Homo sapiens: one gene and its partners. The protein of the gene in region 2 interacts with the protein of the main gene of each other region in a biochemical or structural test. Each region holds a gene or a part of one and is shown on either strand. Other genes may lie near its edges.

What was found. The genes of interacting proteins can lie anywhere in the genome.
Region 1: the proteins of RBPJ (region 2) and SPEN form a complex in vitro, tested with the Homo sapiens proteins (2 studies listed by BioGRID and IntAct).
Region 3: the proteins of RBPJ (region 2) and CCNF form a complex in vitro, tested with the Homo sapiens proteins (one study listed by BioGRID).

What each region holds. Positions count from the first base shown.
Region 1 is NC_000001.11:15,843,730-15,850,725, forward strand, and holds the start of SPEN (msx2-interacting protein), read left to right. Parts: upstream 1-3,977; 5' UTR 3,978-4,338; coding exon 4,339-4,421; intron 4,422-6,996. UniProt on the Homo sapiens protein: May serve as a nuclear matrix platform that organizes and integrates transcriptional responses. In osteoblasts, supports transcription activation: synergizes with RUNX2 to enhance FGFR2-mediated activation of the osteocalcin FGF-responsive element (OCFRE).
Region 2 is NC_000004.12:26,316,414-26,324,015, reverse strand, and holds the start of RBPJ (recombining binding protein suppressor of hairless), read right to left. Parts: upstream 3,003-7,602; 5' UTR 2,988-3,002; coding exon 2,968-2,987; intron 2,789-2,967; exon of another isoform or gene 2,145-2,788; intron 1,851-2,144; exon of another isoform or gene 1,128-1,850; coding exon of another isoform or gene 1,066-1,127; intron 1-1,065. UniProt on the Homo sapiens protein: Transcriptional regulator that plays a central role in Notch signaling, a signaling pathway involved in cell-cell communication that regulates a broad spectrum of cell-fate determinations.
Region 3 is NC_000016.10:2,424,963-2,432,465, forward strand, and holds the start of CCNF (cyclin-F), read left to right. Parts: upstream 1-4,484; 5' UTR 4,485-4,519; coding exon 4,520-4,535; intron 4,536-6,167; coding exon 6,168-6,322; intron 6,323-7,503. UniProt on the Homo sapiens protein: Substrate recognition component of a SCF (SKP1-CUL1-F-box protein) E3 ubiquitin-protein ligase complex which mediates the ubiquitination and subsequent proteasomal degradation of target proteins.

The DNA.
Region 1 (6,996 bases), on a different chromosome or scaffold from region 2:
AGCCACCAGGCCCGGCCAAAATGCTTATATTTTAAGTGCATGTTTTCTCCTGAAACAGCTTAATTTTAATAGCTTGGGACCTGACTTGTAACCAAATTCTTGTTAAAATCTGATAACTATCCTGTCCTGTTTAAATGGAGATATTATTTTACTACTCTACTGGCTGGGTTAGCATTCAAAGCCTGAGTTGGAGGCTCAGACGCTTTTTCCATCTGAGCTTTCATTACGCATGACTGAACTCTTTGAGCATGTCTAGCATGCTAAATACAGCAGCTCCTCACAGTGTGAAAATAAAACCTGATTAAAAACAAATCTATTTTAATTCCACTTTGCAAATGGCTCTGCTTTAATGTCAGCTTTCTGAATTATCTTTAGTAATCAAATGAGGAAATTCACTTCACCATCCGTTTATCATAGATAAATCACAACCTACTTTTTGATCTTTTTCAGTGAGCATCAATTATTGTTAAATAAAAAAACATCAGAGAATAACAGAGTGGGTTGCCTTTCTATTGAAAACATAACAAAGATACATGCTTTAAAGAAGTTCTGCCCCTGTAAAGCTTTGTAACAGGAATACAAATGGAGAAAAGCTTTTCTGGTGTTTTTTGATGCATTGTCAGCAAAAATGAAAAGCACTGAGAAAATCAAAAACTTGATTTGGGGCTGAGCAAAGGGCATGTACTTATCAGTTTTGTTATTAAGAGCTTTTGCAATAGAAACAGTCAACCAAAAAAAAAAAAAAGCAAGAAACTTCATACTTGACATGCAATCACTATATCCTGATTTGACTACAGGACCTGGCTATAATGGTGAAAATGGTTTTTTTTTTTTTTTTTTTTTTTTGAGACTGAGTCTCACTCTGTCGCTCAGGCTGGAGTGCAGTGGCACGATCTCGGCTCACTGTAACCTCTGCCTCCCGGGTTCAAGTGATTCTCCTGCCTCAGCCTCTCGAGTAGCTGGGATTACAGGTGAGCACCACCACGCCAGGCTAATTTTTGTATTTTTAGTAGAGGCCAGGTTTCACCACGTTGGCCAGGCTGGTCTTGATCCCCTGGCCTTAGGTGATCCGTCCATCTCAGCCTCCCAAAGTGCTGGGATTATAGGCGTGAGCCACCGCACCCGGCTCTTTTTTTTTTTTTTTTAAAATCATGATTTTAACAGAAGCCTCCATTCAAGGCGAGACATGCCTTTTATTTCTCTAATTGCGAGACACTTTTCTGAATCCTCTTGTCAGTTGCACCTTTTAATACAATTGAGGTGACACTGTTCTTCATGGTGACACTGGTCTTTCCCAAGAGGTTTCAGCTAATTCAGTCTATCAGATTTTACATCAGATTTTAAAATTTGCTTCAAACTTGGGTGCTTGTATTCAAATTCATGCTTCATAGAAAAATGCATATCAGTTCAACAGTTGACTAACTGCAGCCACGTTCACAGTACTGAATAGTTCATGAGTTTCGTTAGTAGGGTGTTAGCTTGACTTTCCTTATGTGATAATTGTGACAGAGAAATGGCCAGATGTAAATAGCCAATTTTACTTTTTTTTTTCTTTTTTTAAGAGAGGGGTTTCTCCTATGTTGCTGAGGCTGGAGTGCTGGGGCTTTTCAAGGCACAATCATAGTGCACTACAGCTTGGAACTCCTGGACTCAGATGATGCTTCTGCCTTAGCCTCTCCAGTAGCTGAGACTACAAAGAAACAATTTAGTTATGCATAGGTGACCTGAGATATTAGTGCCATTGGTTTTGGTGACAATATTTTCGAATTCAAATAGTGTCGTTTGTAAGTTAGTTTGTATTTAAGGAGATAATCGATGAGGCCAAGTATTTAAAATTGGCTGGGCTGGTGGTTCATGCCTGTAATACCAGCACTTTGGAAGGCTGAGGTGGGCAGATCACCAGGTCAAGAGATCGAAACCATCCTGGATAGCATGGTGAAACCCCGCCTCTACTAAACGTAAAAAAATTACCTGGGCGTGGTGGTTTGCGCCTGTAGTCCCAGCTACTTGGGAGGCTGAGGCAGGAGAATTGCTTGAACCCGGGAGACGGAGGATGCAGTAAGCAGAGATGGTACCACTTCACTCCAGCCTGGTGACAGAGTGAGACTGCGTCTCCAAAAAAAAAAAAAAAAAAAAAAAAAAAATCTGGCTTGCACCTGAAGCAGCACACCTCTGGTATTTCTGTGTATTTTTATTATAAATAATTTTATTTTTCTCTCGATATAGTTACCTTAATTTTATGGGTTTTCCTTGAATTTCTGTAAATTGGCCTTTATATAAAAGTTCAACTGGCCGGGCATGGTGGCTCACGCCTGTAATCCCAGCACTTTGGGAGGCCAAGGTGGGCAGATCACCTGAGGTCAGGAGTTCAAGACCAGCCTGGCCAACATGGTGAAACCCCGTCTTTACTAAGAATACAAAAAACTAGCCTGGTGTGGTGGTGCGCGCCTGTAATTCCAGCTACTCGGAAGGCTGACGCAGGAGAATCGCTTGAACCTGGGAGGCGGAGGTTGCAGTGAGCTGAGACAGCGCCATTGTGCCCCAGCTTGGCTAACAAGAGTGAAACTTGGTCTCAGGAAAAAAAAAAAAAAAGAGGCTGGGCGTGGTGGCTCAAGCCTGTAATCCCAGCACTTTGGGAGGCTTGAGGCGGGTGGATTACCTGAGGTTGTGAGTTCGAGGCCAGCTTGACCAACACAGAGAAACTGTCTCTACTAAAAATACAAAAATTAGCCGGGCATGGTGGCGCATGCCTGTAATCCCAGCTACTCAGGAGGCTGAAGCAGGAGAATCGCTTGAACCCAGGAGACAGAGGTTGCAGTAAGCCGAGAACACACCATTGCACTCCAGCCTGGGCAACAAAAGCAAAACTCCGTCTCAAAGGAAAAAAAAAAAAAAAGAAAGTTCAACTGTAGGTTTCAAAAGCTCTTAGGCCTGGAAAGGCCAGAGGTCTAATTCCTTTCTCTGTTTAAATATTAAATTATGGTCTGAGGGGAACAATATTGGATTCCTGTCTCATTTCCGTTTTATTCCTTCTATACCACAGCGATCAGCAAGGGTATCTTGCAAACGGTTTCGCAAGATTCTATATAAAAAAGTTGCTTAGGCCAGGTGCAGTGACTCCCGCCTGTACTCCCAGTACTTTAGGAGGCCGAGGCGGGCGGATCACCTGAGGTCAGGAGTTCAAGACCAGCCTGGCCTACATGGTGAAACCCTGTCTCTAATAAAAATACAAAAATTAGCCAGGTGTGGTTGCGGGTGCTTGTAATCCCAGCTACTTGGGAGGCTGAGGCAGGAGAATCGCTTGAGTCTGGGAGGCGGAGATTGCAGTGAGCCGAGACCGTGCCACTGCACTCCAGCAGCCTGGGCAACAGAGCGAGACCCCGTATTAAAAAAAAAAAAGTTGCTTCATGTTACAAGCCAGTGACTCTTGGATGGGATGCGTTTCTGAAGCCGTCGCTGTTCAGCAGAGCGGTGAGAAGGGCAACCTTTTTCTGATCGCTTTCCCAAGCAGGCAGGAATCTAAGTGTCCGGAAACGCCAGGAGCTGGCCGCCAGGTGAGCGGAGGACGAAGGGGTCCTGACTTCTAGGGGACAGGCCTTGGCAGCCGCTTTGACCCGTAGCCCTGTGGAAACCAATTGCATTTCTCTTCATATCTTCCACCAGGCCGGGGCCTGGGGTTGCCGCTGGAGGGGCTAAAGACCGCTCCTGCTTCCTCAGCCGCCCCTTGCCCGGCGCGGGAACCCGACCGAGAGCCCGCCAAGCAGCGGGACTCCACTAGCAGCTGCGCGCCTGCGCACCGGGGCCGAGCGCGCGAGCGTTCCTTCCCCGCCTGTAGTCCCTCACTTCGTCGCCCGGTCCGCGCGCCTGCGCGCCGGCTGGGAGGAACTCAGCTTCTCCGCCTTGGCAGGCGGGAGGACGCGCGCGCGCCCGCGGCGAGGGGGAGGCAGTGCGGCGGCGGGAGTCGGGCCGCGCGCGCCAGTGGGAAGCGTCCGGCTGCCACAGCGCCAGCTCCGTCGTAGTCGCTGCCGCCCGTGTCCCGCTCGCCCCTCCTCCCGCTCCCCCGCCCGCCCCTGCCCGGGCGCATGCGCTGCCGGAGCGCGAGGGTCGGCTTCGGGTGTGTGGTGGCGGCAGAGCTGAGCTGCGAGGCCCGAGAGTCAGAACCTGGGGGAGAGGGATGGTCTCTGCACGGGGGGGAGCCGGAGGAGCCGCCGCCGCTGCCGACGCCACCGCCGCAGCCGCCGCCGCCGCCGCCCCGGCACCCGCCTCCCGGCGCTGACGGTCTCGTACGAAGCCGGCGAGGGGGAGCCAGCAGCGGCGGTCGCCGGCACGCCGCCCAGCATGGTCCGGGAAACCAGGCATCTCTGGGTGGGCAACTTACCCGAGAACGTGCGGGAAGAGAAGATCATCGAGCATTTCAAACGGTGAGTGACACGAGGCCCGCGGCCGCGCTCGCTCCTCGGGCGCCGCTTCCCGCCCCGGCCCGTTGCCGGCCCCTCCCGGAGCGCGGAGCTGGTGAGGAGGACTCCGGCCCGGACCCACGGGCGCTGTGGGACCTCGTCAGCCGCTCGGCCCGCGTCGCGGCGTTGGGCCTCGGGTGTCGGCGGTGCGGGCGGCCAAGCCGCGCCGCCTTCGAAGAGCCCGCGGGGCCCCGGCGGCCGCGTCCGTGACGAGGGAGGTGACCGAGGCTCGGCCTCCACGCAGCCGGCGCCCCGGGGCTGCCCTCGCGTCAGCCCGGGAGTCGGTGGGAGATGCGCTGGGCGGCGGGGTCGCGTCCTTGCGCGCAGTGCCCGGCCCGGAGCAGCCGGGACCCGAGCCCGCCCGACAGCCGGGTCCGGCGCCGCCACTCCAAGCTGCTCTGCGGGCGCTCGGCAATGTCTGACTTCGGGAGGGTTCCGTGCGAAGGGAAAGGCGGTGCGAAAACAGAAGTCGCAGTAGGTACTGTGGTCGCGTCGCGGACCCGGAGAGACCATCTAGGACCTCTCCGGAGGATTTGCAGCCTTGAAACTCACTGGGAATGGCAAACGTTTCTCGTTTTTGCGGGGCTGGGTGGAGAGTGGTGTGAAATAAGTTGGTGCGCCCGTTTGGGCTTCCTCGTCCCCGGCGGAGGAGACCGCGTCTGACAGGAGGTTGCTAGCCCCGGCGCCCGTAGCCTCGGGTCGCACTCCCAGGCCGCCCTAAGACCCTGGTGCCCCCCACCCCTGAATTCCCGAATCAAACGGTAAAACATTCCAAACCTTTTACGATGAGAAGATGTAGCTTAAAAAAAAAACCTCCCCTGAATATTTTTGTGAATTATAAGAATAAATGTTGTCGTTGATACATCTTATTGAGTAGCGTGTAGTGCGTTTTCTTTGTGAAATGCCTGTGTACCGTAACAGATAGGCCTCCGCATAAAACACTTATTAAAATGACGATTGGCTTGGACTTGGTGCAGATTCAGAGGGACCATAGCAAATCTGTGGTTGTCCTCGAAAATGACAGTTTATTCCGATATTTAAGACCCTGGAAGGTTTTAAGTTTGGCTTTTAATTTCCCTTACTATGTAGTGAGTGAAGGAAATTATGGAGCGTCCTCATTAATGAGTCACCATGGGAAAAATAGATTGCGTCGCTCGCTTTGAGCCGCTTGGATAAGGAAATGGAAGCAGCGGCGGCGGAGCTCCTGTCTTTTAAATGGAGGATCATTGATTGTGTTGGTGGTTGCTGTTACTGGGGCATTAAACCCTCGCCGCTGGAGCGCGCGTCTGCGCGTGTCCGCGTGTGAAAAGGAGCCGGGAATCGTGGGGCCATTCATAACCTGCTTGAGCTGTCCTCGGCAGGCCGGGGGGAGGTGCGCGCTTCCAGGGACTCTCCCGGTGTTTACTACGTCGTGCCTGAGAAACCAGGCGGGGGCGGGGGGAGGCAGGGAGCAAAAATTCACCTCTGTGCCCTAGGATGAAGGGGAGACCACGGGCTGGATTGGGAAGCAGATGGGAACTTTCTCTTCCTGGCGCTGCTCCACCCCTTACCCGCCCCCCACCTCCTGGCTTCTCCTCGAGTATCGTCAGTGTTTTGATGGAAAAATCATTTAGGTGTACATTATTGGAGTGGAAAAACCACTTAGATGTGCTCACTTTAATCCCCTGTGGACTTTCTCTGTAGGTCTCTGCCTGGGAAATTCGTATGCACCGATGTACAAGCACGTGCATTGCAGCATTCGCTCGCTCCTCAGTGTTATGTGCCTAGACGTGTCATTTCTCATTATGCAGATTCCAGAGACATTGCATGCTTATGGCTGGGAGTTTGGCCCCTCTGCAAGATGAGGGGGCAGAGAGAAGAAAGAGGAAATCGTCCCAGGCAGCTTTGGAAGGGTTCTTAGTGGACGGTGCTGCGGTCTGGCTTGTGTGAATGACTTTCTAAAATGGCGGCCAGGACCCACTTTATGTGGGAATCAGCAGAGCCGATCTCAGAATGCACAGAGGGAGGAGGGGGCGGAGGATTCGAGCTGCCTTGGAAAGCGGCAGTCTGGAGGAACATTACTGTATTAAAAACGGCTTAGCTGGCAGTTTGCTCACGACTGCATTCAAAGGAGTATCTTACCTATTGCAGAGTAAAAGCAGATGCTACTGATAAAAGCAGGTTATTTTAAAACTAAGCAGATCATGTGTCCCTGAAATTCTTTTATTTTAAAGGTTTTTTTTTTTCATTTTTAAACAAATCTATTTAGTTGTTTAAATAGACAGTACATTTTTATGGGTTCAAAGCATGTGAAAGGTATACAGAGAAAAATCTCCACCCCTGACCCTGGAATTCCCAGTTGCCACACTTCCTCCCCTCACCCCCCAAAATCCAGGTAATGTCTATTTCTGGTTTCTTGTTTATCTTTCTGCATGTACAAGAAATGTTCCTGCTGATCCAGCTGTGGAGCTAAGTGGACCTTGTTTGGAGGAACTCAAGGCCTTTTATCCCTATTGTGGGATATATTTTGTAAAATGTGTGATTGCTACTAGGAGTAAAA
Region 2 (7,602 bases):
CCAGATGCCAAAAATAACAACTTTTAGTCAATCCATGAGAAAATACTGCCCCTAGTTGAGATAACATGAAATTTAGTATTAGGAGGAAGCAAAATGCAAAATAATGCTTTAAAGCCAAGTCCTGGGTCTTATTTCTAAAAATGAACAGAAGAATGAGATGTATAATAACTTTCAAACGAAACAATTTTTTCCTAATGCCTTACCCATCAAGGGTGCCAAAGGTTATTTAATGAATTACATCTGGCAAGAATGGCCTGTCAACCAAACCAATTTTGATCTTACCCACTTAAAAAAAACATTGATAGAAATCTGTTGGTATAGGACAACAGATAACTTTTTAACAAACCTAACTGCTTAAAATCTAATGCCTACAAGTGTGTATTAGTACAGATTTGAAAATATTGCAAGTCTCCTGTTTTCTGAAAATATACTCACAGATCCATCAGCAATATGCATGGATAATAAAATTTAAAGCTTTAACAGTTAATACTCAGAATGAAAGTTCTCCAGCCACAACGCATCCAGATTTCGAAATATGCTGCTGTTATAATTTAATTAAAAGCAGTTTTATTTCACCAATCATGTAAGTAAAAGTATTACACGATTTAGAAAGAAAAACGCAACTCAAATGGTAAAAGCGCTTTTATCATGTCTGTGTAATCATTCTTACAGGTACAAGTCAGAGCAAAATACCTTCCATTACTACACAGTATTTACACTTTGCTCCCAGTCAGAGAACCAGTGAGCTCAAGATTTTACCTTCAAAACAATGATTATGTACAAGAACAAGTAAGGGAGACATAAGATTATTGGTAAAACCCACTCAAGCGACCCAGACTGCAGATTTTCACAAAAAAACTTATGTATCAATCATGAAAACATGGTTTTCCATTAATTAAAACTCAAACTACTAATTCTAATCACAGCCAGAAAAAAAAGTATTTTCCAATGCTCCAATACTCGTTAGAGTAGATCTCGTATGTCCCCTATCAACAACACTTCACTATTGTAGAACTTCAGTTTGTAAATGAAATGACACTCCAAATGATTTTATGGGTAACATACCTTCTAAAAGTAGAGATCAACCAGTAGAAAAAAAACAAACTCTTGAAGAATACCTTCAGCATAGTAATCCTGGTAAATATAATAACTCTTATTCCTAGCACCCAGAATAACTCAAGTCATTAGAATACATCACACCACACCCCCCACCCCCATTCACACAACCCCAAGCTTTTAGCATTACCAAAACAATAAGAACTCGAAACACTTCAAGGGTTCTTTAACACTAGGAAGTGTCTTTAAAATAATCTCACTACAGGCTATTACGTGTGTGTGTGTATATATATATATAATATACATATTATACGTATACTTTTTAACTGCATTTGATTAATATCTTCCACAAAGATCTTAGAAGCAGTATTCATCGACCAGAAACTGCACTCTTCGGTGCTGTCCTCATTTCAACCCCAATGATGGGACAGAAGGGTTGTCACGCATCTACAGGGCAGCAAAAAGCACATAACTGTAAACTATCTAATGATTAAGAAAAAATAAAACATTTATATAAAATTCCCAAGCGGAATGCCTCTCCTTTTCCTTATGAGGCAGAAGTTACTGATAAATTCTAAATCCAGATTTCTAGAAAATGCTGAAATTCTCCGCCCCAACACTCACAAGTTTTTAACATGGAAATTCACTCAACTCCTACTCACACGCCAAATGAATATCCATTGTGGCTATCTGAAACTATTCTCAAACACTAACAGAAAAACACATATATACATCTTGAGCCTCCTTCTAACCGTCCTACGATACCCTCCAATCATCCTCAGGCAGCCTAGATTGCAAAGCTTCGACAGACAGCTGCCCTTGGCCTACGCCGTCAGGAACCAGGAGGGGGGCGGGGGCCGGGGGGCGCAAGAACCACCAAGAGACCAGATCTTTTTCCAAGGCTACTGTTTCCAAGCAAAACAACCCACGGCACTAAAAAGACGGCGATGAAAATTGGAGACGCTTTAATCCCGAGAGAAAGGGGTGGCGATAGGGGGGCGGGAGGGTACAAGAAATCCCGAGAAAAAGAGGTGCGGAGGAGAAAACTAAGTATCCCATGCATCTTTCAGACCCACAAAACAACAAACCGTAGAGTCTTGTGTGCACTTAGAAGCAGCAGATGGAGTCCCCGGGGCTGAGACAGTTCAGCAGACGTACACCGTGGGTTGTGGATAAATCAACCGATGACGGGAGAGGAAGGGGGTGCCGAGAGAATAAGCCCGTGGATGGGGGAGACAAAGCCTCGGGGGGTGATCCAGGACCATACAGAAAGGTGAGAGGGGACCCACAGGAGAAAGACAATGGAAGAACAATTAAGGCAGAAATCTGGTGCCCGGGCTGTGGCAGGTCACTGGGCTAACGACAAGAGTGTGGCACAACAAAGGGGCACGGGAGGAAGGACAGCGGAGGGGAGGAGATGGAGAGGGGATGCGGGACGCCACGGGTCGGACAAAGCGCCCAAGGCGGCGAAACAAAGGGCCGGGGGTAGAGAGTCGCAGCGGGTAGCGGTGAAAGACAAAGCGCCCGGGGCCGGGGGCACTAGCGGGGCGAAGCGGCGACAACGGCCGCGAGGAACAAAGATGCACGGGGCCCCCAGGCAGAGCCCGCTGGAGGCGCGCGGGAGGCACGGCGCCCGAGGGCCCCGCGCGCCCTGCCGCACTCACGCCCGCACCCGCCGGCCTCGCCGCCGCCGCCGCCGCCCGCCCTCACGCGCTGGAGCCTGAGCCACGGCAGCGCAGAGCGGCAGCGCACGGCCACACGCCGCCGCCGCCGCGCTCGGCGCACGCGACGCCGCCCCCGCGGGCCCCCGAACGCCAAGCGCGCCGCGGCCCCCGAACCCGCTGCCCGCCGTGAGCTGCCAGACGCCCGCAACTTTCCCGGTTCCCGGCGCTCCGATTCCCTCAGACTTACCCTGTCACAACAGGCGCCATCTTCCACAAACTCTCGCCAAAACTCCAACCCTCGCGAGATTCCCCCCGACGCCTTCCCTGGTCCCTCTCCCCCGCCCCTTCCCTTTTTCCTCACTCCTCGATTCCACCCAGCCCCCGCGCTCCCTTTCCCCTCGCCGCCGCCGCGAAGAGCCAGACGCCTCGCGCCGCCCGCAGAGTAGGGGATCCTGCTCGCTGCCTTCCCTGGAAACCTACCCAGGCGATGGAGCATGCGCAGGCGGCTCCTCCGCGGGCGAGCCCTCCGTGTGGTCCATGGGGAGCGCTCCGGTTATCCGGGTTTTAGGACGCGCTTTGAGGGACGTACGTGGAGACTGAGGAAAACCGGAGGGGATTACTACGGGGACGAGGAATGGAGGGGTCAGGAGGCGGGGCCGAGGAGAAGGGAGGAGGGGTCCTGGGAAAATGGGCTGCGTTTCACAGGCCTAGATGAAACACCTCCTCAATGGGTGTTTTCCAAGCGGCTTCCCGCTCACTCTGGGTTCCCAGCTATTTTCATTCATTCAAACGTTCCCTGGGCGCCTCCTTTATGCTAATCTCGGCGTTTGGTGCAGGAGCGCCAGAGATGTCTGGGGTTCGGGCAAGTGACACGTCGGGGACTGTCTTCATTCATTACACCCCCCCATGCTAATGAGGAGGCCCTTCCAGAGCTCCTCAAGCGGAAAACTTTTGCAGTTGAGCTCTCTCGCCTTAGCGTTCTCCTTGGGTGTGAAATGAGGTCAAGCCAAGGCCTCTAGCAAAGACACCCCTAATGGCCACCTCGCAGACACACGCCAGAGCGCGGAGTAGTTCTCTCCAGAAGGGAAAACTGCCTTGGAATTGAGAGCCACATTCTCCCACCTCCGAGTCTGCCCAGAGGACCCGATCAAAGCTCTTGCCGCTCGCGTGCTGCATGGCCTCTCTAAGACCCCATCGCAGCCACCACCGTGTGTGAGCCCAGGTGTGTGTTGAGACCACTACTGCACAGGGAACCGGGCCACCCGAGGGCCTGGCACAGCCGAGGACGCTGCCGGCTGCCCGAATCGCGCTTCAGGCGGCCTGATCCCGGAAGCCCCCGGGCAAACCTGGCCCCACCGGGCATGGAACAGCAGGGTGAAGGGCCCGAATCCCGCCCCCTCCTCCTACCTGCAGCCCCCCATCTTTCCCCTCCTTTGCTCTTTCCTTTCCTAGAGATTCCCAGATCCAGCACTGCCTCCCGCAGGGAGCCCCAAAACCCGGAGAACTGGAATTCGCCGCCCGAAACCTGTTGAAGGCGCTGCAGGATTGGCGCGGCCCGCGCGAGCGGCACTGCGCATGTACCCAATGCGGGCAGTCCAGTCTCACGCTACACCTCCTTCCCACCGCCTTCCACTACTCGGCTCAGACACAACACGGCCGTGGGAAATTTCCTAAACCTCGCGAGAACGTGCCCCTGTTGCCTAAGCTTTCGCCCCAAATCTCGCGGAGCCAAGGCAGGACAGGTGTTTGCCTAGACCAGCTCCGGGCGCCGTTCGTGCAGCGCGTGCCCGGGAGGCGGGCGGCGGGCGGCGGGCGCGGGCGGGGTGGGAAGGGAGCGGCTTGCCGCGGAGGCGGGGCGGGAAGGCGCGTGGCTGGGAGCACGGGGCGGAGGGCGGCGGGGGAGGAGACCCGCGTCTCGCACACAACACGCACACGCCCTGTGACGCTGGATGGAAGACGAGGGGTGGGGAGCCTCGAACGGAGGAAGGGGAAGCCAGGAGGTTGGAAGTCGCTGCCGGTACGGAGAGTGAGAGGTCAGGCTCTAGGGCAGGAGGAGCCCCAGGCCGATCTCCCGGGGAGGTTTCCTGTCGCCCTCCACAAGCCTGGTACTTTCCTAAAACGTGTTAGACACCGCGCCCCCCGCCTCCGGGAGCTGACAGACAGCCTCCAGAGTCGGGTTTGAGTCATGCCTTGAGTCACCTAGTCTGGCCACTACTTCGCTTACTTTGAAACAAGTTCTGATTCCTTAGCTACTCTACTTTAGCAATTGGTTTCTTTTTTTTTTTTTTTTTTTTTTTTTGAGACGGAGTCTTGCTCTGTCGCCTAGGCTAGAGTGCAGTGGCGCGATCTCGGCTCACTGCAAGCTCCGCCTCCTGGATTCACGCCATTCTCCTGCCGCAGCCTCCTGAGTAGCTGGAACTACAGGCGCCCGCCACCACGCCCGGCTAATTTTTTCTATTTTTTAGTAGACGGAGTTTTACCATGTTAGTCAGGATGGTCTCGATCTCCTGACCTCGTGATCCGCCCGCCTCGGCCTCCCAAAGTGCTGGGATTACACGTGTGAGCCACCGCGCCTGGCAGCAATTGGTTGTTTTCTTTCTAATCTACCCGCTGGCCCTGTGAGCTGGGTAGAAAAATAAATAAATAAATAAATAAACAGCTCTGCGCTCTCGCCTTGTTGCCTTGTATAGATTCTTGCTCCCGTTTAAGGACACGATTTTTAAAATTTCTTGTCAGTCTCTTCTTAGCCTTTTGAAGTAATCTTACAAATCAGTTTCTGTTTTTTCCTCCCACTAATATGGCTTTTTTGCTTTCCGTCACCTTTCCGTATTTTTATTGCAATATTCCATTTTACGTATGGCTGCGGCAGGTGCTATAGTGACTACTGTTTTAAATGCAGCCCTTCCTTTTGGATCATTCATCCAATGAGTTCCTGATTACGTAAATTCTTCAATCAGCCACGTTTCAGATTGGCCCTGATGTGGTTTCTATACCAGCCTTAGCCTGGCATTATCTAGGAACCAGTGTCTTCCTGCTCACGTCACAGCCCCGCAAATGTAGAGTTGAATTGAATTTTGATATTTGGAGGACAGTGAGTTCTCTAATAGGAAACCCTGGTTTTTAAGTTGTTTTCAAGGTTTTAGGGGTGTGTGTGTGTGTGTGTGTGCGTGTGTGTGTGTTTGTGTTTGCCTATTGATTATATACACAAAAAAACAGACTTAAAACCATTTGGTGCAATATCTCAGTGCAAGTCTGGCTTGGAACAGGATAGCTCAGGAGGAGGACAAAGCCCTTGGGGCACATATTCCTTGGAGCTGTCATCCCAAGAAGGTATTTCAGTCATGGCCTAGTCCAGACCACTGATCTAATTTGGAATCATGGCCTTCTGAGAGCCCCAGCGACCTTGGGAAGCCATGGTAACCACAAAGGGAATAACAGCTCCCCCTTTTTGCCCTAAAACATGCTCCATCTGCAGCCCTCCCCCATCTCAGGAAAGGACAACTCCATTCTTCCACTTATGTCAAGAACCTTGGAGTCCTTGCCTCCTTTCTCACACCCAAGATACAATTGGACGGAAAATCCTATTGGCTCCACCTTCAGAATATACTCACATTCCAAATACTGTCACACCTCTTTAGCTACTAGCCTAGTCTAACCCATCTTATTTCCCACCTGGTTTAAGGAAGTTCCCTAACTGGTCCTCCCTTCTTCCGTTCTTGTCTTCCCGCAGTCTGTGCTAATAGAGCATTCTCAGTGGCCCTCTAGAACTCCTCCATGACTTTCCCATTTCACTATGAGGACTTAGACAATCTTGCCTACTGCCAAACCCCCCCTGATCTATCTGCCTTCACCTCCTCCTCTACCTCTCACTCTGTGGGCTCTCACCAGTTGCCTTCCTTACTGTTCCTGGGATGCCCCAAGCACACTTTCAGCTCCAAGCCTTTGCTTTTTCCACTACCTGGAATGCTCTTCCCTCATATACCTTATAGCTCATTCCCTCACTCCTTTCTTGTCTTTGCCTGATGTCACCTCCTCAGGGAGGCCTTCCCTGACACCCTTCCCAAGAGGGACTCCCATACTCCTTATCCCCCTTTCTGCTTGATTTTGTCCATGGCACCTATCATTAACTAACATAACATTTATCATACTTGTGTGTTGTGTTTACTATCTGCCTCCTTCCATTATAATGTAATATTAATAAGGGCAAGGACTTTTGTCTAGTTTGTTCATTATTCAAGCCTTAGCTGCTGGAACAATGCCTGCTGTATTATATTTGTAGAATGAATGGGGTGTCTTCCACTTTAGGGCAGAGTAAAAATGATTCTGAAGACTAAGCCTCCTAGGGTTCAAAACAATATTAGGACTAGACTAGCAGTGAGTACTAGCCTGCCTAGGGAGGAGAAAAAGGCATATGGAGCAACCACCTGTGTTGGTTTTTTGCAAAAAAAAAAAAAAAAAAAAAAAAAAAGTCGTCTGGGTTAGACCAGTAGATGAGGCTGCACTTAAGAGTTTCCTTTACTCTCCATTTTAGAACTTCAGGAAAAAAACAACAAAAACACCACTAGCCGGATATGTGTGTGTGTGTATATATATATATACACAATATGTGTATATATATATATGTGTATATATATATATATCAATATGTGTATATATATATCAATATGTGTATATATATATCAATATGTGTATATATATATTATATATATGAATGTATATATATGAATGTGTATATATATGAATATATACATGAATATATATATGAATATATATATGAATATATATGAATATATATGAATATATATATGAATATGTATATATGAATGTATATATGAATGTATATATGAATGTATATGAATGTATATATGAATGTATATATGAA
Region 3 (7,503 bases), on a different chromosome or scaffold from region 2:
TCTCCTTCGTGCAGGCAGCGTTCTTGAAGACAAGCACCAAGGCATGGTCCATTACCATCTGCTGGGCCGCGACCTCAGCTGGGCGAAGTTGAGCGCACATTTTTGACGTGACCCACTTTCTGGGGTAACTCTGTCTCTCTCTCTCTCTCTCCCTGTCTTTCTCTCCTCCCCATCCTCCTGAAGTCATGTTCAGTGCTGCCCCTGTCCTCTGCCATCTCCATGGCAACGTTCACGTGGATTTCATAGAACAGAAGGTGTTTCTGCTGGAAGGGACTTTGAAGATTGGCTCCTCCTGCCCACTTATTTCATGGAGAGGAGAGCAGGCCCAGAGAGGGAACACCAGATGCCTGGGGACACACAGCAAGCCAGGGACCCCACCAGGCCTCTGGCCTTCTGACACCACTCCCACCCAAGAGCACAGACAGCTGAGATCCATAGCACTGACTTCTCAGGAGGTGTTCTGGAGCAGCTGAGAGAGGGATGGGCCTCTTTGGGGCCTTGTCACAGTCCCGGAGGCCAGCCCTTCCCACCCTCTCTCCTCCCCCGTGTGCATCTGTGGGACAGCCTGGCCACAGCAGCCTCTTCCCTCCCCTCAGGTGTTTGGCACTCTGGAGCAAGCCAAGAAGTACATGCTGGACAACTACTCAGCAGTCAGGTCACCATGGAGGACGTCTTCCTGAGCTTCGCATGCCCTGTGCCCCTGGTCCAAAGCGAAGACCAACGAGAGCAAGCAGAGCAGGTGGGCTCCTCATCGTGCTCGCTGCCTCCTTCCCTGCCTCCCTCTCGGCTTTCCTCTCAGTCTCCCTCCCTGCCTCCCTCTCAGCTTTTCTCTCGGCCTCCCTCCCTGCCTCCTCCCTCAGAGCCTGTCCTGCTGTAATAAGGACAGACCAGTGCCAGGTTGGCCCAGGTGTGCATGGCCTTCCCTGGGTTTCCAGGGCGTACAGAGGCAGCTCTCGACCTAGCTAGCTCAGCACAGGGCTGTCCCCCTAACTGCAGTGCACGGAGCAGAGTGGGGCCCACTGGAGAACTTAAGAGGCCCGCTGGAGAACCCAGGTGCGTTTCCTTAGAAAGGGATGCCCAAGTCCCACCTGAGTAGCCTGTGGTCTTATTGAGACCTGGCTGTGGAAGCAGCCTCAGAACATCTTGCATGTCCTTTCCAAGGGCGGTGGCCATGGGGTGACTACAGTACTAACCATGACCCGACCAGGTGCCAACTCTGTGGTTGGTCCCCTGCAGGCATTGCGTCATTTGATCACATCACCCTCAGGCCCGGCCTTAAGGGGTCTGTCCTGGTCATCCCCTTGCTCATGGGCAAGAAGTCTGCAGGGCAGAGGGAAATGCTCACCCAAAGCTTGCGCTCTTCCTTCTCTAGAATCCCCTGCCCAGATGGTTTGTCCATCCAGTGCACTCCCTCCCAGGGCAGGCCATGCCGCCCAACGCACCCTGAGATGCGAGATGCAGCAAAGCAGTGGCTCTGCAGAACTTCGGGTAGAGTTTGGATGGGTGCGTGGAGGTTTCCACACATGTGTGCAGATCCCTTGGAAAGCAGGATAGAGCCAGAAACAGAGAGGAGGGTGCCCGTAGGCCGCTGGGGGCTGGCTCCCATGGTCACATGCAAGAGTGAAGCTTCATGGAGACCATGATTCTAAACTCACACCTGGCCTCACAGGTGGTAATGTCACTGTTCTTCTGAAGGAAGGAGGAAATAAATATTGACAAGTTTGCTAGCCTAAGTCGGGATGTCACAATATTTAAATATTTGGATGTGTGGGCTTTCATCCTCTTCCCTGGCTCCTGCAAATTTAGGGCTGCATGTGATCCTATATCCACCCATGAAGTGGACAGCGCCCCACCTCCCACATGGGTAGACTGGCTTAGAGGCAGCCAGTAACTTCCCACATCAACAGACAGGGGAGCCAGGGTTGCACTGGGGCAGAGGTTCTCGCAGTGGGGTCCCAGCAGTAGCAGCACCATCAGGAAACTTGTTAGAAATGTAGGTTCTTGGGCCCCACCCAAAACTTACTGAATCAGAAATGCCTGGGGCAGGGCCAGCAATCCATGTTGCAAGAAGCCCTACAGCAGGTACTCTGGCGCAGCTCCAGCATGAGAACCACTGAGCAGAGGCCCCATGGGCGCCAGACCATCACACTGTCCAGATGCAGATGGATGTGGCCACATGCCTTTGTCATGTACACTCACCTCTCTTCTGAGACGGGCTCCATCCCGTGGCCTTTCTCTCTCTGTGGAGTTCACTCTGCCCCTTGCCACAGGCCCCTCAGCTCCTCTCTGGGAAGTGCAGATGCTGGTCTCTGCCCCTTCTCAGCCAGGACTCAGGAAAGGGTCATGCACAGGCCTTGCCTATGGTTCCTGCACCCCTTGCCCAGAACAACGGCGTTGCACACCCATGGTCGCCAACCCACCCTCCTCAGTCCTCGTTTCAGGTGACTGCTCCCTGTGATGAAAGCCACTCCCTGGGCTCCCATATCCAGCTCTCATTCCTCCCATGCCCCTCTCTGCCTCCACTGAAGGCCCATCTTCTTCTCTGAATGTGGGATTTCTCAGGCTCCCAAGCTACTTCACTTTCCCTTCTCTCCCCTGCCCCTCACTACCCATAACGTTTTCAACCGACACCTCATTCCACCAGGAATTTCCCTGAGCTCCTAACAGTTTAGACTTTTCCAACAAGGTCTCACCTTCCTGAAGCCCAGTGGGAAACGGGCCCACACCCTGGAGGAGCCACTTATCACCCCAGGGCAGCCCTGGAGGCTCCCACTGCCAGTGCAGGGTGTGGGGCGAGAGCAGGCATGGCTGCAGTCAAGACAACTCCTGCTCCCTGAAAAAGAAATTTGCCTGTCCATGTTGAAAGGAGAGTGATCAGGACACAAAGCACAGGATAGAGCTAAACAACAACCTAGGGACCAAGGATGCTGTTCTAGATTCTAGAGGCAGCTGGTGTGGCTAATGTGCTCATGGCTGGCTCTAGTTGATTAATCCCTTCAAGATGCTATGGAAGCTAACCCTGAAAGTGCACCTCTGCCCTAGGGGGAGACAGGTAACAGTGACAAAGTAGGAAACAGTAACCCAGGAGGACAAAAGTGAGATAAGGGGATAATAAATCTGGGGGCTGAGAACATGGGACATCTGGGGAGCAGGCCCCAAACTCGCTCAGCCTGTCCTCTCTTCACCCTCCTTCACCCGCTTCCTGATTCCGGGACAGGGAATATTCCCAACTTCCAGACCCTCTCTGGGGCCACGGACTCTTCTGTACCCTGTGCTGTGATCACCTGTTTACTCTGTCTCTTGCCCCAGGCCGGCTGAAGCCTGCACGCCAGGGCTCCTGTCTGTGTGCCCAGGGCAGGCCCAGTACTTGAAGGAGTTCTATGGGGACCCGGAAGGATGGAAGGGTGCAGACTGAGGGAAGCGTGAGGGAGGGGTGGGCAGCCTTGGCCCAGGCCCCTGCCTTCCCCAGGAAAAGCCCCCTCTGTCCTCCACCAGACAGTCAGGAGGCTGCGAGTCTTCCCCTTGACAGCCTGTGCCGTAAAAGGGGTGCGGTGTGGCTGACTCCTGAAGGACAGCTCAGATGGGCACTGCCCAAGACAAGAGTGAGCAGATACGACACTTCCCGCGGCGAGCAGCTCCAGGTAGCAGCCGAGGAGGCCAGACAGGGGGCAGCATCTGGCCAAAGTGATGGGGAGGGCTTGCCCCGGGGCTGGAGCACTGAGGCGTCCAGGGTGCGCCACGTTTCGCGGGAAGAAGGGGTCAGCGTTCCGCGGGGGAGACTTCCCAGCGTCAGCTCCGACCTCCTCTTTCTCTACCACGATCCCGGCCAGCATCCCCGCCCAGCAGCGGCTCAGCCACAAACCCAAGGGTCTCCACCTGAAGCAGGCGGCGGAAGGGAAGGCCGTGCAAGCTGGGGGTGAGGGTCGCGGGCCCAGGAGCGACCCCGGGACCCGGGCAGGGCACGGCCTCGTCTTAGAAGCGCCACGTCGAGGCTGTCCCAGGCTGGATCACGGCCGCGACTGCGAGGGACGCCAAGGAGTCCTCTTTCCCCTGGCCGCAGGCGTGCGCCTTCGCAGCCCATCTGGCACCGCAGATGCCGGTCGCCGGGGTCAGCGGCGAAGCCCGAACCCATGCGGCCGGGAGGGGACGCCCACAAACCCCTGCCCGCCGGCCGGGAAGCGCTCCTACGGGACCCCAGCCCCGTTGGGGAGGCGGGGCGGCCACGCGGGTTCCACCAATCAGCGGCCAATGTTCGAATTCGCGTCCTGGCGCGGCCAATGGCGGGTCCCGGAGCAGGCGGGGAGGGCGTGGAGGGCGGTAAATGAGGCGAGCACAGGGCGGGACATGGGCGGGGCCGGCGGCGGCCCCCCCGGGCAGGCCAATGGGAGGGCCGGGTGCGTTTGAAAACTGGGGTGGGCGGCGGGGCGGGGTCTGCGCCTGCGCGAGGGCTACGCGCGCTCCGGCCGGGGCGCGGGCGCGCTCTCAGGCGGGCTCCGGCGGCAGCGACGCGAGCGCGGCGATGGGGAGCGGCGGCGGTGAGTGCGGGGCGATGTCCGCTGGTTTCTGCCCCACACCCCTTCTGCCTGCCCTGCGGGGCGGACGGTGGGTCCCGCGGGAGGGGAGGCCCTGGCGGCCTGAAGAGGGCTGGCTCGAGCTCTTTAACCCGGGGCGGATGTCGCGTCCCGCGCAGGGAGCCCCGGCGGCCGGGCGCGCGGTTTAAATGCCCGGCGGGCGCCCGAGCCCCTCGGAGCCTTCCCCCGCGGCGACGTTTTCCGGCCCTTTCCTGGGGCAACGATCGGGTCCCGGGGCAGCGATCCGGCGATCGGGTCCCGGGGCGGCGATCGGGTCTCGGGGAGCCAAACACCAGCGCCTCCTGGTCGGGGAAAGGGCTGCGGAGCGCGTGGGGGCGAAGCGATCCCGCAGCCCGGCCGGGCCCTGACCGAGCCTCAGTCCAGCGGGGCCGTGGACCTAGCTCTGTGGAAAGCAGCGTTCGGCCCCGCGCGCGTTGAGGCACAGGAAACACGAACTGTGGTTTCAGCTATTATCATAGTATCTGTCCTGGAGCCGGAGAATGAGGAATATTTTATGGAGAGGTCTATAGAATCTTTGAGAATTCGTCGCCCTGGAATACGTTTGGCTTTTGCAGCTGATTTAATTGCTAACAGGAAGACCCCGGTCAAGAGAGGGGAGCCGGGAGCAATCGCTAGGAAGTCCTAGCAAGGCGGGGAGGGATTTGGGCCCACAGAGGGGAGTGGCGCTTCCTTTCAGGACTGGAAGGAAGGATGGATAGAAAGGTAGATTTGTAGATGGGGAGGCAGGATCCTGAGGTTCCTGTCTGAGGGCTTCTGTTTCCCTGTGAAATAAGGGCTAAGGTCATCTGCTTAGAGTGAGGAAGGGGTTGCTGGAGTAGGAGTTGGAAAATCCGGCTGTGGGAAGAGGAGAGAGCACATCTGAGAAGCATGTCCGGGCTGCCTGCCTGGTGGGTGGAATGCCCGTCTCACCTTTAATGATTGCATCTGTACACAAACCTACAGGTCTAGGTTTGTGTTGGGACCTGAGCAACAACCTTACTGCGTAGCTGTCAACTCCGCATTCTACAATAGAGGGCACACTGAGACTCTGCAGAGCTGAGACTTGGACGCACACTGCCCCGGCCTCCAAGTCTGTGGCTTCTCTCCAGGGCCGACCCTTCTAATTTGGACTTGAAAACCAGACTCTTCAAGCCCACAGATCTTTATTGAACATTATGCACCTTGGTCACGTGTGCAAAAAGCAAAGCTATCCAGCAAAGGCCCCAGGAGTTTTCCTGAGAGTGAAATAGAAGGAAAACCGTCCTCAGCTTCGGCAGCTTTTTCCCCTTCCTGCCTGTCATGTGGGCTCTGGATCAGAAAGTTTCCCAATAGCCAAGTTACATGACATGCGCTATTTGCCATAAATATTTGTTGAATATTTGAAAATGAATGATCTCTTCTGTAATTTGTGCAATGCCACTCCTTTACATAATCTTTGTTTGGGACAAGAAGCATAGTTCCATCTTTTGTGGCACAGGGAATAGTAACCATTAGATCATCTTCAGATGTAACTTTTATCCTTTTTTTTTCCCTTCAAGGGTGTGTATATAGAATAATTTTTCATCTTATCAAGGCTTCTGTCTTTTTTTCCTTCAGTGGTCCACTGTAGGTGTGCCAAGTGTTTCTGTTATCCTACAAAGCGAAGAATAAGGAGGAGGCCCCGAAACCTGACCATCTTGAGTCTCCCCGAAGATGTGCTCTTTCACATCCTGAAATGGCTTTCTGTAGAGGACATCCTGGCCGTCCGAGCTGTAAGTCCCTGCATGAAAACACTATGAGCCCTAGCATTGTTGATTATACCATCAGGCCTTGTGTTCTTAACTGTCAGAACAAAACTTTGGCTAAAAAAGAGGTTGGGGCAGAGGCCAGGCACGGTGGCTCATGCCTTAATCCTAGCACTTTGGGAGGCCGAAGGGGGGTGGATCACCTGAGGTCAGGAGTTCCAGACCAGCCTGGCCAACTTGGCAAAACCCCCATCTCTACTAAAAATACAAAAATTAGCCGGGCGTGGTGTCTCACGCCTGTAATCCCAGCTACTAGGGAGGCTGAGGCGGGAAAATTGCTTGAACCTGGGAGGCAGAGCTTGCAGTGAGCCGAGATCACATCATTGCACTCCAGCCTGGGCGACAGAGCGAGACTCTGTCTCAAAAAAAAAAAAAAAAAAAGGAGGGCAAAAAGGAAACAAGGATGATATCATTACCAGATGCTTTCTTTAAGACATTCTGATTACAGAAATTCCTACTGCTGTCTCCTAGCACACTAAAATTGCCTCTGTTCATTGCAGTGTCAACAAAGAAAGTACCTTTTTTTTTTTTGAGACAGAGTCTCGCTCTGCCACCCAGGCTGGAGTGCAGTAGCGCAATCTCGGCTCACTGCAAGTTCCGCCTCCCAGGTTCATGCCATTCTCCTACCTCAGCCTTCCGAGTAGCTGGGACTACAGGCACCCGCCACCACGCCCGGCTAATTTATTGTATTTTTAGTAGAGTTGGGGTTTCACTGTGTTAGCCAGGATGGTCTCTATCTCTTGACCTCGTGATCCGCCCGCCTCGGCCTCCCAAAGTGCTGGGATTACAGGCATGAGCCACTGCACCCGGCTGAAAGTACCCTTTTATGGCAGTGAAATTTGCATCCCTTAAAAAATAGGATAGTGTTTAAAAGAATAAGAATACATTCTTGAGGACAAATTCCATGTAACATTTAACACTGAAATGGACTCTAGGAGTTATTTTCTAGATATTGGAACCATAGGCTTACTTTGAGTGACTTAACCTAGAGTATATAGTGGATTCATGGGGAAATGCCAGCAAGAACCCATTTTCTGACTCCCAAAGCCACCTCCATTGCAGGTGCGACACACTTTATGGACCCCAGGGGGTGCTGAATTTCCAATGGCAGTGGAAACTTTGGTGCTTAAAGTGTTCACCTGTGCTCC